2 linked regions of the Homo sapiens genome follow. The protein of the gene in region 2 interacts with the protein of the main gene of each other region in a biochemical or structural test. Each region holds a gene or a part of one and is shown on either strand. Other genes may lie near its edges.

What was found.
Region 1: the proteins of PDS5A (region 2) and WAPL form a complex in vitro, tested with the Homo sapiens proteins (one study listed by BioGRID).

The regions. Positions count from the first base shown.
Region 1 is NC_000010.11:86,469,689-86,477,333, forward strand, and holds part of WAPL (wings apart-like protein homolog), read right to left. Parts: intron 4,286-7,645; coding exon 4,190-4,285; intron 3,077-4,189; coding exon 2,924-3,076; intron 2,657-2,923; coding exon 2,520-2,656; intron 1,416-2,519; coding exon 1,304-1,415; intron 1-1,303. UniProt on the Homo sapiens protein: Regulator of sister chromatid cohesion in mitosis which negatively regulates cohesin association with chromatin. Involved in both sister chromatid cohesion during interphase and sister-chromatid resolution during early stages of mitosis.
Region 2 is NC_000004.12:39,897,482-39,905,592, forward strand, and holds part of PDS5A (sister chromatid cohesion protein PDS5 homolog A), read right to left. Parts: intron 6,711-8,111; coding exon 6,559-6,710; intron 4,980-6,558; coding exon 4,866-4,979; intron 3,027-4,865; coding exon 2,945-3,026; intron 1,345-2,944; coding exon 1,296-1,344; intron 1,048-1,295; coding exon 908-1,047; coding exon of another isoform or gene 875-907; exon of another isoform or gene 533-874; intron 1-532. UniProt on the Homo sapiens protein: Probable regulator of sister chromatid cohesion in mitosis which may stabilize cohesin complex association with chromatin. May couple sister chromatid cohesion during mitosis to DNA replication.

The sequences.
Region 1 (7,645 bases), on a different chromosome or scaffold from region 2:
AAACACAACCATCTAAAGATTTAAACTTTGAGCCCCCAGAAGTAGAGAAGCATCAGACCAGGTGTCTGATTAAATGTTTATACAGCAAATTATTTTTGGAAATTAGGATGCATTGTAAAGGCCATGGGGGATCCACTGCCCTTAAAAATCACACTGTAATGTCTAAGTTCACTGTTAACTGCATAACAAAGCAAACGAATTCTCTTTTTTGTTTGTTTTTAAGAGATGAGGTCTCACTAGGTTTCCCAAAATGGATCTGAACTCCTGAGCTCAAGAGATCCTCCCTTAGTCTCCAGAGTAGCTAGGACTTACGAATGCACACCACCTTGCCCAGCAACAAACTAACTTCTTTTTTTTTTTTTGAGACAGAGTCTCGCTCTGTCTCCCAGGCTGGAGTGCAGTGGCACAACCTCAGATCACTACAACCTCCACCTCCCGGGTTCAAGCAATTCTCCTGCCTCAGCCTCCCAAGTAGCTGGGATTACAGGTGCCTGCCACCACACCCAGCTAATTTTTTGTATTTTTAGTAGAGTCAGGATTTTACCATGTTGGCCAGGCTGATCTCAAACTCCTGACCTGAGATGATCTGCCCACTTTGGCCTCCCAAAGTGCTGGGATTACAGGCATGAGCCACCGCGCCCAGCCCAGAAGATGCAGTATTAAATTAATTATCACCTAATCTGTATTTAGAACATAATTTCTTTAACAAAAATATAGTAAGGCCATCTCAAAATACTACTAATGCTAATAATTAGCAATGATGGTTACTTTCTTCTAATTTTGGAAAATGTTAAACCTAATAACTTTTGTTATGTTTATCATTATGCAAAAGCATCAAAGGCAAGGAAAATGAAGAAATTATTCCTTATCACAATGAGGCCATGTTCCAGATTCAACACTGGACAAAAACGTTTCTAAAAAATTAGGGCTGCATTTCCAAACCAGTTTTTTTCCATTCATTAGTATCAAATAATATTAAAAGATTCTTCTCAGTGCTTTCTGATTATAGAGAAAATTATGCTTACAAAATTCTGTATCAATATACTACATTAGCTAAGATAACAAAATACAATTTTAAAAGTATAAAATGACACATTAAGAAAAAATGTTTTCACGTTTTCATGATAAAATAAGTATTAAGCAAAAGCTTCTGGCCATAAGCACTACAAATTTAGCAAATAAAATGAACTCAATCTATAATTAGGATATATTTATAGAATATTCAGTGAAGATATTTTTGATAGCCAAATAGACTAGTAGTTTTCAACATAAGGCTTCTCAATCTCAGAAACTTAAAAAATACCTGATGGTGCTGGGAATCATCCAAGGTTTTAAAGACCATTGCTACCATCCCATGTGCTCTCAGGTGCATTCGAAAACTGGGCATGGCACATTTAGTAGCCAAGCTAATAACACTACAAGAAAATAGAGCAGGTTAGGGGGGCTGGAAACAGCTAGTACATTAGTTTTGAGTTTGTGTAATACCAAAACCAGCAAATAGGAAGGGGGTAAAAGGGTCAAAGCATTGCCCATACATGATCACAATATAAAAACCATAGGCAAAACACATTATTAAAAATATACTGATGCCTAGTGCATGATTAGGTACACTGTATTTTAAAAAAATAACGTAATTGTCTTTAGTGCATTCCTTACGTTACTACTACCACCATTAAAAGCTTAAAATCTGAGCTGCCTTTCATTAATACTTCTGATAAAAATCACAATTAATTAATTATATTTGATTGGATATACTCCAAATGACTGAAAAATTTAATCAAAATTATAGTATTCAATCAATCCATTAGGAAATACAAAAGATCATCTTTTTGAGCATTTGGGTACAAATGTAAGCGTCCAGATCACAATATGCTTAAATAAATCTAACTTATTACTTGAACATCAGAGGTAAAAAGAACTTAAAAGATTTTTTTTTAATTATTTACTTTATTTCTTTCTGGTAATTTTTTCTTTCTTGTTTTTGGAGACAGGGCCTCACCTCACTCTATCATCCAGGCTGGAGTGCAGCAGCATGATCACGGGCTCAAGCCATCCTGCCACCTCAGCCTCCCAAGTAGCTGGAACTACAGGCATATGCCACCATGACTCATTAATTTTTTATTTTTTGTAGACATGGGGTCTCACTATGTTGCCCAAGGTGGTCTCGAACTCTTGGACACACATGATCCTCCCAACTTGGCTTCCCAAAATGCTGGGATTATAGGTATGAGCCACCACACAAGGCAAAAAGATGCTTTAGCGTAATTTTTTTTTTTTTTTAAGCTCTTGAAAACTGAAGCCTATGCTATATTAAAAAGGCTCTCATCACCCAGCTTTCCCTCTTATCATGCAGAATCAAATTCTTTATAAAGAAATGGATAGCATTTTAACATATCACTGGCTATACATACTACCCCATCATAACAAAATAAAAAATGTTTGGCTTTTTGGACAACACCTAGTTGAAAAAATTTAATACAGCATGCACATAATTGTAAAATATAAAAATAAGATCTTACCTAAGGCAACGTGTGTTTAGAGGCTGAGTGCTCTTTAAGCCACTTAACAAGTACTCAATGTCATCAGTGAACTCTTGATTTTCACCAAATTCTACAACATCGTTGAAGTGCTTCACGTGCTGAACAACAGTATATAACTGCCAAGAAAAAAAAAGTTCACCCCTTTTTAACTAGGAACTAGCATATTTAAATCTATGGGCTCACTGTACTTTACATAAGTGCATAAAATAGTTCATTAGATGGCAACAAAAATATTTTTAGAACAAGGATGATGGTAGGACAAAAGAAGTTTGTGGTTCAAAACTGAGTATCAGTATACTGATATTTGTTGAAGATATTAAATGGCTAAATGTTACATACAAAAATCTATCAACATGCAGTAAACACTGTATATGGCTGCTTACTTCTTTGTCTTCTCGTCTGCATTTCAGTGCAGTAACTATATCTTGGTAGGGCTGAGTAGGTATTGTCACAGTTTTTATCACTTTGGATGGTGGTGCAGGAGCCTTAAAAACTCCATCATCTTTTTGATTTGGTTCCTTTGAAGACAGCCTCACCTATTAATAAAGGTATTAAATTAGTTGTTCTAAATAAATATATAAAAATAGGAACGTCTCATCTATCTGGCAAATTCAGCTTCAAAAAAAAGTAAATAAAGCTTTTTAAAAAGCAGGGAGCAGGGAGGCCTCTCAAAGGTCTTTAGAAATACTTTGAATTCCATGCACTAACAGGTAAGACATATGTATATCTGCACACAGAAGAACCACTCAAGGATTTCTTCTGGTCTTTTTTAAACTTTTTATTTCACACAATTTGTCGTTTGTCTCTAGTACCATTAGAAAGACTAAAGAACCACAACTGCATGCAAAAATAGCTTTCATAAGCAGAAAGGGACAGGACAGAAAAACCAGACAGAGTCAAAAGAATTTTAGTAGCACAAGAGTGTGAAGTAGTTTAGGGTAAAAATAAATAGCTATAACAGGAGCATGCTATATTACTACTAATATACAAAATGATTTCTTTATACTATCAAAAGGAGTCTAATCAGTTTAAGAAGACAGGGAACTGTACATTATACTTTAGAAAGACTTCTATCCCCAAATTTCTTATTGTTATAAAGAACTAAGTTACTTGATAACTCCAGATGACTGAAGCTTTACTGTTAACCTAGAAATCATGTATGATATTACCAGTCATTCTGGAGAAAATAAGTTGCTAAGAATCTTTTTCCTAATGTTTTGGATTGAAAAGTATTACTAGAATACAGGAAGAGATTTGTCTCTGAAAAGCAAATTAAGCACTGAAAGCCACTTAGAAATATATATAGGATGTAATACACAACATAGCTCTTATACAAACATCAAATATGGACAATCTTGCTCTTAAACACTAAATACTATAAATTCCATGAAATGTGGGTCATGAGTAACAAGAGCCTTATTTTTTATGGCTTTCATTGTTTAACCTAGCAGCACTAGAATTTCTGCTATCTTACTGACAATCCTCAGTTTTCCAATGAATTAAACTGAAACTAATAAGTTTCAGTAAAGAAAGCCAAAATAAACTGTTAAATAGAAAAGTCAAAGATTTACAAATTATGAATTAAAAGAGTAACTGCTTAATTTATAGCTTATTAAAAAACACAAAATAAATAAGTACAGTTCACTTACTGTGACACTCTGAGGTTTTACTACTGGTGGCCCAGGCAGTTCTTCTGAATCTGGATGATTCCAATGTCTGGCATTATATACAGCTTTTGTGGGTGACTAGAGAAATGAGAGAAAGATCAACTGCTTCCATCCTTATAAAAGACTCTCAACTAAAAATCATAAAGAATAATTTATATGCATAAACATGTCCTAGAAACAGCAGGATGGATACTATCTGGGAACAGTCCCACCATAATTCCCATTCTCATGTCTATGGCAAATATAATCACTGTAGTACTAGGTCACAAAATCAGTAATTAGTGCTCTGTGCAACTATGACTAACCAAGAAAAGATGGCACTTGAAAGTAAACCTAGGCCAGACATGGTGGCTCACACCTGCAATCCCAGCACTTTGGGAGGCCAAGGCGGGTGGATCACTTGAGGTCAGGAGTTTGAGACGAGCCTGGTCAACATAGTGAAACCCCATCTCTACTAAAAATAAAAAAAATTAGCTGGGCATGGTGGCAGGCATCTGTAATCCCAGCTATTTGGGAGGCTGAGGCAGGAGAATCACCTGAATCCGGAGGCAGAGGTTGCAGTGAGCTAAGACTGTGCCACTGCACTCCAGCCTGGGTGACAGAGTGAGACTCCGTCTCAAAAAAAAAAAAAAAAGGTAAACCTCTTGCTAGGCTTACTAAGTAATCAACACATTTAACTCAACATGGGCTGGGCATGATGGCTCATGCCTGTAATCCCAGCACTTTGGGAGAGTGAGGAAGGAGGATCACTTGAGTCCAGGAGTTCAAGACCAACCTGGGTGAGCCCCAGAGTTCAAGACCAACCTGGGTGACAAAGCAAGACTCCGTCTCAAAAAAATTTAAAAAATAGTAATGATGATAATAATAATAGTTCAATGGGTTCTTTGGCAAAACTTTATTCTTCCTACTACCAATTCATGCCTCACAATCTTCCAACAATGGGAATCCAGCAGTTTATGACAGACAATGCGCTCATTTAAAGCAAACCACTGCAGCCAGCTGTGTGCCACCACTCAAGAGTTCTCAAATTTTATCAAGGTAAATATAATACATATACCACATATTCCAAGACACAGTGGGATCCAAAAAAGTACCATGTAATAACATACATGATTTCTGCAGCAAAATGTTACACTAAGCAGGACAAAGATGTAAAGTCCCTCACACATCAATTGAGGTTATTGTGCTGCCCTATCAATTTACTTAAACTTCCAGGGGATTTTCAGTTTTAACACTGAATTTCCGAATTGAGAATAAATGACAGTAAACCTACAAAATCAAATCAAGTAAAAGAACAAAACCCTCACTTTCAAGAGAAAACTGCATAATTACAAAGACAAAATAGAAAGGTAACACCTCATCCTCTCTATCCTCTACAAAAGTGACGTTAAATTATGTTTTGAACTTCAAATACATGGTTTGGACAAATTAGAGATTTTCTCTTATGAAACACATCTTATTTTCAGTACAACAAAAATAAGAAGACAAGTGGAAAATCATACTTCAAGACCGTCAAAAAATCTACATTAAAAAACTTAACTATATCCCCTTACTAGCTGCACTGAAGCAACATAATTAGCATTAAGCATTAGTGTGAACTAATCGTTAGCTTTTAATATATTATCTCTAATAAAGTGGAAAAATTCTCATTTGGATTGTGTACACAAACCCATCATTCATAAATGCCAGGTTTGCATAACATGATGATGCATTAGCAATCTGAAACAATTTATGCACTCATGCAATGACTTGATCTGGCTTCCTGAGACACAACACATAAAGTGGACTGAACATAAATTTTAAAACCAACCTCTCTATTCCTTCCATTCTTTTCAAAGACCAGCTATGTAACTTGTGTGTCTGCTAGTTATGGATCCCTAATTTGAACTACCTTTAGTACCTCAAGCATACTCAGAGCCCAGGCTCTGGTAACAACAGCCTTTTGGCAAGAATGAGTGCCTCAAAGCTCAAGCATTTTACTTCTTTTTAAAAAGCATTGATTGGGCTAGGCACAGTGGCTCATGCCAGTAATTGCAGCACGCCTCTAGGCCGAGGCAGGAAGCAGATCACTTGAAGCCAGGAGTTCACAACAGCCTGGGCAAGAAAGCAAGATCCTGTCTCTACAAAAAATAAAATTAAAGAAATTAAAGAAGCAAAAAGAGAAATTATTTTTAAAAAGCACTGACTAGGCCGGGCACGGTGGCTTACGCCTGTAATCCCAGCACTTTGGGAGGCTGAGGCGGGCGGATCACGAGGTCAGGAGATTGAGACCATCCTGGTTAACACGGTGAAACCCCGTCTCTACTAAAAATACAAAAAATTAGCGGGGCACGGTGGTGGGCACCTGCAGTCCCAGCTACTTGGGAGGCTGAGGGAGGAGAATTGCTAGAACCCGGGAGTCGGAGGTTGCAGTGATCTGAGATGGTGCCATTGCACTTCAGCCTGGGCGACAGAGCGAGACTCTGTCTCAAAAAATTAAAACACTGTAAGAGTGCCTGAAAGAATATGTGCTGTCGGGTGTGGTGGCTCACGCCTGTAATCCCAGCACTTTGGGAGGCCAAGGCAGGCGGATCGACTGAGGTCAGGAGTTTGAGACCAGCCTGGCCAACAGGATGAAACCCCGTCTCTACTAAAAATACAAAAATTAGCCAGGCATGGTGGTGAGTAACTGCAGTACCAGCTACTCAGGAGGCTGAGGCGGGAGAATCAGTTGAACCCGGGAGGTGGAGGTTGCAGTGAGCCGAGATTGCGCCACTGCACTCCAGCCTGGGCGACAAAGCGAGACTGTCTTTAAAAAAAAAAAAAAAAAAGTGCTTTGTAAGTATTAAATGTTATTATTAATTGTTATGTGATGATGTGCTGCTAGGTTTAAGTCTAACACATTCGTAAGAAAACAGAAATATATAGCCTACCTACCTAATAAAGAATATGATAAACAAATGGAATAACTGATGTGTCTATTCATCTCAAAAGTCCTTGAAGCATAACAGCATACAGAATAATTGAACAATTTATATTAAAAGGTCATATTAAAGGAACTTTTGGTTATGCTGTTGAACAAGGCAATTTAGTAATACTATTAGTTTTAAAGCTTTTGATGATGTTTTACCATTTTAATACTAATAAGCAATCTAAAGGGAAGTAGTCCAATTAGAACTTTTTCTTGACTTTTATTTCAGTGTCTTACAAGATTAATATAGGGTTTATTATGGGAGGAGAGATATTGAAGACACATCTAATTAAAAATTAAAATAAGTAATATCTGTATATGGCTAACATACACATATGGCAGGGAGAGGAAGAAACAGGGAAAGAGAGAAAAGGGAACACTGACTGAGCTCTTTACATCATTCCAAAACAGTACAGTAATTCCACATGCTCCTAAGTGAACTGTGTATGTAAAGCACAAAACAGTGGTATGTCACAGGCTAATTTCAC
Region 2 (8,111 bases):
TCCACCTCCCGAGTTCAAGCAATTCTCCTGTCTCAGCCTCTTGAGTAGCTCAGATTACAGGCATGTACCACCACACCTGGCAAATTTCTGTATTTTTAGTAGAGATGGGGTTTCACCAAGTTGGCTAGGCTGGTCTCGAACTCCCAACCTCAGGTGATCCACACGCCTTGGACTCCCAAGGTGCTGGGATTACAGGTGTGAGCCAATGTGCATGGCCTCCAAAAAATTTAAAAACTTAGCTGGGTGTGGATGCGTGTGCCAATAGTTCTAGCTATTCAGAAGGCTGGGGTATAGGATCACATGAGCACAGGACTTTAACGCTGTAGTGAACTATGATTGTGCCACTGAACTCCAGCCTGGGTGACAAAAGCAAGACTATCTCAGGAAAAAAAAAAAAAAAGCTGAATAAATGAATGCATAAGTTTTCCCTCCTGATAGCTTTAAGAATATTGGTTTTAAATGAGTTCAAGAGAAGAATGAAGACAAAAGTCTAGATAGGAATTTACTTTATCTGTAAATGAAACCAGATATATGGCAATGTTACTACTACTAATTTATTGACGATTATTTCCATTCTAATACATGAAAGAAGAAAATGCACATGTACACAAGCATTCAGAAAATACTTATCATTACTCAATGAATGTCTACTAAGTTCAAAGTACTTTATCTTGTAAAATTCCTAAGACCAATCTCCCTGGCTTAGTTCTTTAGTTATTTTCCTGGAATGTGGCTGAGAGTGAATGGTAAATAGAGAATTAACTTGACAATAGATATACTCCAAAGTAATTCAGAGCTCACAATATTGTTACATTTACACAAATCACTGTATGTAAAACAGGCTTTAATAAAATACATATTTCTGTAAGTAAAGCTAGAGAAAAAGTGTGAAGTATGATTTACTAACCACACAAATATCTGCTTGTTTGCAAGAACAGGTTGGGCTAATTAATAACTCCAACTGAGACCGAAGTTTCTCATCATCGCCGAGAACCTGGTTAAATTTCTTCACAAAATCTTGTGCTTTCCCGGGGTCAGGCAAATTCTCTATAAAATTAAAAGAGAATCAATATTAGAGAAGGAAAAAAAAAAAACTATTCTACTAAGCTAAAAACAGGTGCCATCAAAATATTGCGGAGCCACTAAAAGAAAATCAGCCTAGCTGGTTCTTAGAAACAAAATTAAGATAAAGATTATTTTCTTTTACTTAACATTAAATCAGTAGTCCCACTGGGTAAATACTTTGTCTGCATTTACGTTTACTACATGTTTAGTGAGTAAATAAACATACTCACTTGCTATGGTCATCAGTTTTCCAAACATGGCAGAACAGTTAGCCTCTGACTGAAATTTAAAACAGAAACAAAAGAACAACTAGTCATATGTGTTAACAAATTTCCCTAACAAAAATCAATACTCATTACTGTACATTTTTCATGACGTTAAAAAATAAAGTTCATCACAGTCTGCTCAATGGAAAATGGTTTTACCACATATATACGCTAAACTAACAACAAAGAATTACATAGTAGCAACTATTAAGACAAATAGAAGGAAAGGAGATGTTGGGAGGAAGGTACTTAAAAACCCACAAGTATATAACTTTCACAGGAAAGTTACATTGCCAGAAGATTGAAAAAAGATCAATGAAGCAATCAACATATAAACTTATCATATCAGAATTACTATGAAACTACATGCCACAAAAAATTAACTAAAAATATAGAGAAGAAACTTTTTTTTCTGCAATAGAGTTCTGTTAGCTACTTTGTGGCCCGTTACTTAAATACCTTCAGGAAAACCTCCTTTCTAAAACGTACTTCCCTTTCCTGTATCCCATAAAACATTACTTATTAGTTTTCATTTATACTAAATTTGAATAATTTAGTTCAAAAGTTAGAAAACTATGCCCCCATGAGCTACCTGTTTTTGTTAGTAGTTTCGATGGAATATAGTCATGTCCATTCATTTATTTATCGTGTATGACTAATTTTGCAAAGGCAGGGTTGAATATCTGACCACAGACTCTATGCCTTGCAAAATATGTTTTTGCTATCTGTTGATTTATTTTCAAAGTTTGCTAGGCTAGGTGCAGTATCTCACACCTGTAATCCTAGCAATTTGGGAGGCCTAGGCAGGCAGACTGCATGAGCCCAAGATTTTGAGACCAGCCTGGGAAACATGGTGAAAACTCACCTCTACAAAAAACATACAAAACCTAGCTGGGTATGGTGGAGCACACCCGTAGTCCCAGCTATTCAGAAGGCTGAGGTGGGAGGATCACCTCAGCCCAGTGACATCGAGGCTGCAGTGAGCTGTGATCATGCCACTATGCGACAGCCTGGGCAACAGAGTAAGATCCTGTGTATTAAAAAAAAAAAAAAAAAAAAAAAAAAAAGTTTGCCCGCCCCTGTTCCAGCATCCATGTGTCCTTGAGGGGTCTGTTTATATGGTCCCCTGGTTAAGAACACCTATTCTAGTGAACACACGTAAAAATGTAAAGTTTTTTTCCCCAACCTTGCAAAAATTTAATGGCATTTCTTTTTTAGTTTGCCATTGGCATATTTATAGGATTGATATCTGATATTCACTCTACACTGAGAGACCATGAATCATGCAGTGAAAAAGAAATATGATGTTTAATGTAATTTTATCTCAAAATTTAATTCTAATTATTTGAAAATTGATTAACTATAAACTCTTAGTGTCTGAAAACTTTATATAAACTAGAAAACACCATTTCTTTGCTCACACTAGAAAATAAGAGTTTGTTATATTTATTTTAAATGGAAATTTAGCTTGGACAACTACAGAAATTATATTTAACTGACATTTGGAAAATAAAACAACTGAGATACTTTTTCCCTGCTTCATTACGTAGAACTACAGAAAATCTGAACAGTGACTATAATAAACTATGAATTTAAACAAATCATGAACCTACTGTAGGCTGCTTGTGCAAATCCAATAGTTCGCGTACATGGCTCCGAAGCATGTTCTGACACTTCCACATTTCGTTGAGAGCTCTGTAAAGTTATGAATATGAAAACACACATTACATAACAATACTGGAAATTATTCAGCTTTACAACCTTTCTTGTTGCATGCTGTATATACACCATTCTTCTACATCTACCTAAAAGTTTAAATACCGGGAAATATATTTATTAGGATTTAAAACAATTTAGTACAAATGGTAAATATAAGCCTTCTTATGAGAGAAAATATTTGAGAGGTTTAGAAAGATTAATAAGTAATACAGGGATTGAAAGATGTACTAAATACAGGTAGCTAGAAAGTTTTGGTACAAGGAAAGAAAATCTCAAAGTGCAAGGGACATAAAACAAACTGAAAAACATGTATACGCTTGGAGCACAAGGCATGTGTGTGGAGCATAAGGAAGCTGGAGCATTCCACAGACACAGATCAAATCATGAAGGCCTTATTAAAAAGGCTAAGGCATATACATGAAGCACTATAGACTATTTTGAAAAATGAAGTATCAAAAATGATGCAGATTCAAGATGCCAAATTTACATTATTGTGTTTATTCTAAACTTTTCTCTCTCCAGGAACACAGATTTTCTTCTCTCAGAAATCCCATCCATATTTCCAGGTGCCCAGATGACCTCTGAGAATTACTAATCTCTAAACACTCTTTGTCAGATATTTTGAAATGTAAACAAACATCAAAACCTTAAGCAAGGAAAGGGATTAGTAACCATGATACAACACTATCGTAATAGAATTTCTGCCAAAATGACAGTCTTTTTTTCTTTTCTTTCTTTTTTTTTTTTTTTTTTTTGAGACAAGTCTCACTCTGTTGCCCAGGCTGCAGTACAATGGGATAATCTCGGCTCACTGCAACATCTGCCTCCTGGGTTCAAGCAATTCTCCGGCCTCAGCCTCCCTAGTAGCTGGGATTACAGGCGTGCACCACCATGCCCAACTAATATTTTTGTATTTTTAGTAGAGATGGGGTTTCACCATGTTGGCCAGGCTGGTCTCGAACTCCTAACCTCAAATTATCTGCCTGCCCTGGCCTCCCAAAATGCTGGGATTACAGGGGTTAGCCTCCACGTCCGGCCTAAAAATGCAGTCTTAATCTAATAATGCAGGAACACTTGAAGAAGCCACAATGGCAAACAGTCAAATTCCTAACTCAAAATTCTCTCTCTTTTTTAAGACAGAATCTCACTACATTGCCCAGGATGGTCAAGCTTCTAGGCTGAAAAGATCCTTCCATCTTCAGATCAGAATTCTTAATGACATCACTCATTTACTTTGTGTATTTTTGACAAAAATTACATATACGATGGTGTACAACATAATATATGTATATATTGTAACATTTACTTTAAAAAAAAAATCTATTAAAGTGAAATGACCACACATCCTGGTTGGCCTGGGACAGTTTGATTATGCTATTTAAGTAAAAATATCAATAGTGATCCCTTTCAGTCTGAAAATAATCCAGTTGGACCATTAATCATATGGCCATCTTACACAGAGAAGATCTGAATATGTTCACCCAACAAAGAATCAGTATTCAGTTATTAGGCTTAATATTTAGTCTGGAAGGATAAAGCACCAGTAGTTTTAGACACTAGCCACAGGTATTTTGACGTGGTCATTTATTTGAACACCTGAAACCATCCTACTACTGACCTGGCTGCCAAACAAGCCTACACATATAAGAATAACCTGAACATAAATCGTAACATTTTGTCTATAAATATTTACCTGAGGTTCTTGATTCAACTATAGAAGCAGCAACAATCCAATCAATAACAACTAATTAGATAAGATGAAGTAATTTTACGAAATCCTTAGAAAATACAGCAGTTATTTGAAAAGTAACTTACTTTACAGCATTTGGATCCAAACTAGCATATAAGTAATATAAGCATTTCATTCTCTCTTCTGTTTCCAGGTTGTGGGGGACAAGATACTGAGCAAAGATTTTCTCTACCAACAGTCTAGGAAATAACAACAACAAAAAAAACCTAAGTGACACAATTATTCCATTTTTAAGAAGCAATTTTTTTTTTTTTTTTTGGAGACAGGGTCTTGCTCTGTCACCCAGGCTGGAGTACAGTGGTGCAAACTCGGCTCAATGCAACCTCTGTCTCGCAGGTTCAAGCGATTCTCCCACCTCAGCCTCTCCAGTAGCTAGGACTACAGGCGCGTGCCACCATGCCCAGCTAATTTTTATATTTTTTGTAGAGACAAGGTGTCCCTATGTTGCCAAGGCTGATCTGGAACTCCTGAGCTCAGGCAATCCGCCTGCCTTAGCGTCCTGAAGTGCTGGGATTACGACGGGCATGAGGCACCACACCCAGCCAACATTTTAAGTTTTAACCATCTTATGCCAGGATACCATATCAAGATAATAGCTATGTGTGCACATACAATGGAAGATATCAGTTTATAATGACTTCCTTCTTGGAAAGCTTTCAGTACAGTTTAACTTTAGAGACACGGTTACTGTCTGTGGCTTTATAATTTGTCAGTATGAAACATTTGTTCTAGAAGGTTTAAATGTTATTCCTAAACACAGGGTGCTAGGCTGTTCCGCCTATTCTTCTTCAGCAGTCTAGAACAAAAGCAAATTCATTAACGCAACATATAAAGCTATGATCCGCGGTAGAGCTAATTCTCAAGAAACTCATTAATTTCCTCTGATTACAGTTCAGCCCATTTTCCATGTTGTCACATAGTTAAAAACAGGGGGACCCCCCTTCATATTACTTCCAGAAAATGTAGTTTTTCCTGTGTACATCTGATTATTGTTCTCTCCATGATCTAAATTCCTTACCAATATTGGAATATCCTTCTTGCTAGTACCTATTGCTTGTATCTTCTTGCTTCTATTATTTAATATCACTGGATTAAGAATATACAAGATCTCTTAATTAACAAATGAAATACATATCCAGTGATGCCAGAGAAGTTAGTTTAATTAAACAAAACAATGGAAACTATTCTGCACACACCAAGTATCATTTGTACGATCCAATATAGAATTATAAGTAATATTCAGAAAATGAAAACAACTTAGTAATTCCTCTATTGGTAGTGGTGTAAAAAGGAAAGTAACTAGCAGTTAACTCAATAGTGCTCTCTTGCCACACATTGGGCTAGGATGCTTTATATTCATTATTTTATTTAATCTACATGATAATCCTGTGGGAAAGGCACTATTATTTTTCCTTTTTATATAAAACTGAAGCGCACAAGACCTTAATGAACCTATGTAAGAATACACATCTAATAAAGGGCAGAGTGAACATTTGGTCTCTAACTCCAAAGTTCATGCCTATTTCATATTATAAGGCTACCTTATAATCGTGGACAGTCTTGTTTAAACACAGTACATAAAAATATGTAAAAAGCTATCTCTAAACTTAGAAATAAATGATTAATCAAGTTGAATAAACTTAATTTTATTTATGAAGTAAATACATAAAAATAAGAAATTACTAAAATATTAAATAGACATTTTTTAAGTAAAAAGTAGTTTTACACTCAACCATTCTACCAACATATTAAACTCACTTGTCGTCAATGCTGTTCTGATAATAAATATGCAGAAGTTTGTCCTTTATCCAGCTGACTTTCTCTGCAGCTTCCTTTCCTGCTTCACCATGAAGACAGTATTTCTTATAAAGCTGAGCCAGACCCATCATAGCTTCTTTTCTTACTCGCCACTAAAAAGCATAAAATTTATTAGATGAGCAAGATAACAAAACTCTGTACTAATCTCCAAAGACTGCCTTGGCTTCATTAGGTTGTACAGTCTTATGTGTGCCTTTATAAACTGGCACACTATTTCTCTTCAAAAGAGGCTTTACAAACAATTTTATTTTTTTTTTGAGACGGAGTCTCACTCTGTCGCCTAGGCTGGAGTGCAGTGGCAGGATCTTGGCTCACTGCAAGCTCCGCCTCCCAGGTTCACACCATTCTCCTGCCTCAGCCTCCCAAGTAGCTGGGACTACAGGCGCCCGCACGCCCGGCTAATTTTTTATTTTTAGTAGAGACGGGGTTTCACCCTGTTAGCCAGGATGGTCTCGATCTCCTGACCTCATGATCCGCCCGCCTCGGCCCCCCAAAGTGCTGGGATTACAGGCGTGAGCCACCGCGCCCAGCCTACAAACAATTTTGAATCTGTTCCTATTTAGAAATTTTCCAATGCAAATATTGCTAAATGATCTACTTTTTTCTTTTTAAAGAAATGGGGTTTCGTTACGTTGCCTAGGCTGGTCTCAAATTTCTGGGCTAAAGTGATCCTCCTGCCTTAGCATCCTGAGTACCTAGAACTACAGGTTACTGATTTTTTATTTCCCTTGAAAACTATTAATAACCTTATGGGAGAGTTCATTTGATTCTATTGAAAGAAAATTCACCAAGTTTTAGAAGTGATTATAATTCCCCTTGCAAACAAAACCCCTATTATCTGGAATGTTTTAATTGCCAGTTACATCCCTTTAGATGTTAACTTCGGATAAGAACAAAGTTCACTATCAAGAATTCTGGGCCAGGCATGGTGGCTCATGCCTGTAATCCCAGCACTGTGGGAGGCCAAGGCAGGTGCATCGCTTGAGCTCAGGACTTGGGGAACTGACTACCCAGTGAATCTAAAATCCTAGTAAATCTAAAATTGTAGTGAATCTAGGAGTTGAGCTGGCTGACTAACCAGTGAATCTAAAAATATGCTCACAAGCTGACAAAACCTGCCCACTCAAACAGAGCTTCCAATCAGCTGTGCAGTGAGTCAGTTAAAAATCTGACCAAGGGCGGGCATGGTGGCTCACACCTGTAACCCTAGTACTTTGGGAGGCCGAGGCAGGTGGATCACCTGAGGTCAGGAGTTCGAGACCAGCCTGGTCAAAATGGTGAAACCCGGTCTCTACTAAAAACACAAAAATTAGCCGGGCATGGTGGCACGCACCACTAATTCCAGCTACTTGGGAGGCTGAGGCAGGGAAATCACTTGAGCCTGAGAGGCGGAGGTTGCGGTGAGCCAAGATTGCGCCACTGCACTCCAGCCTGGGCGACAGAGTGAGACTCTGTCTCAACAAAAAAACAAAAAACAAAAAACTGACCAACTA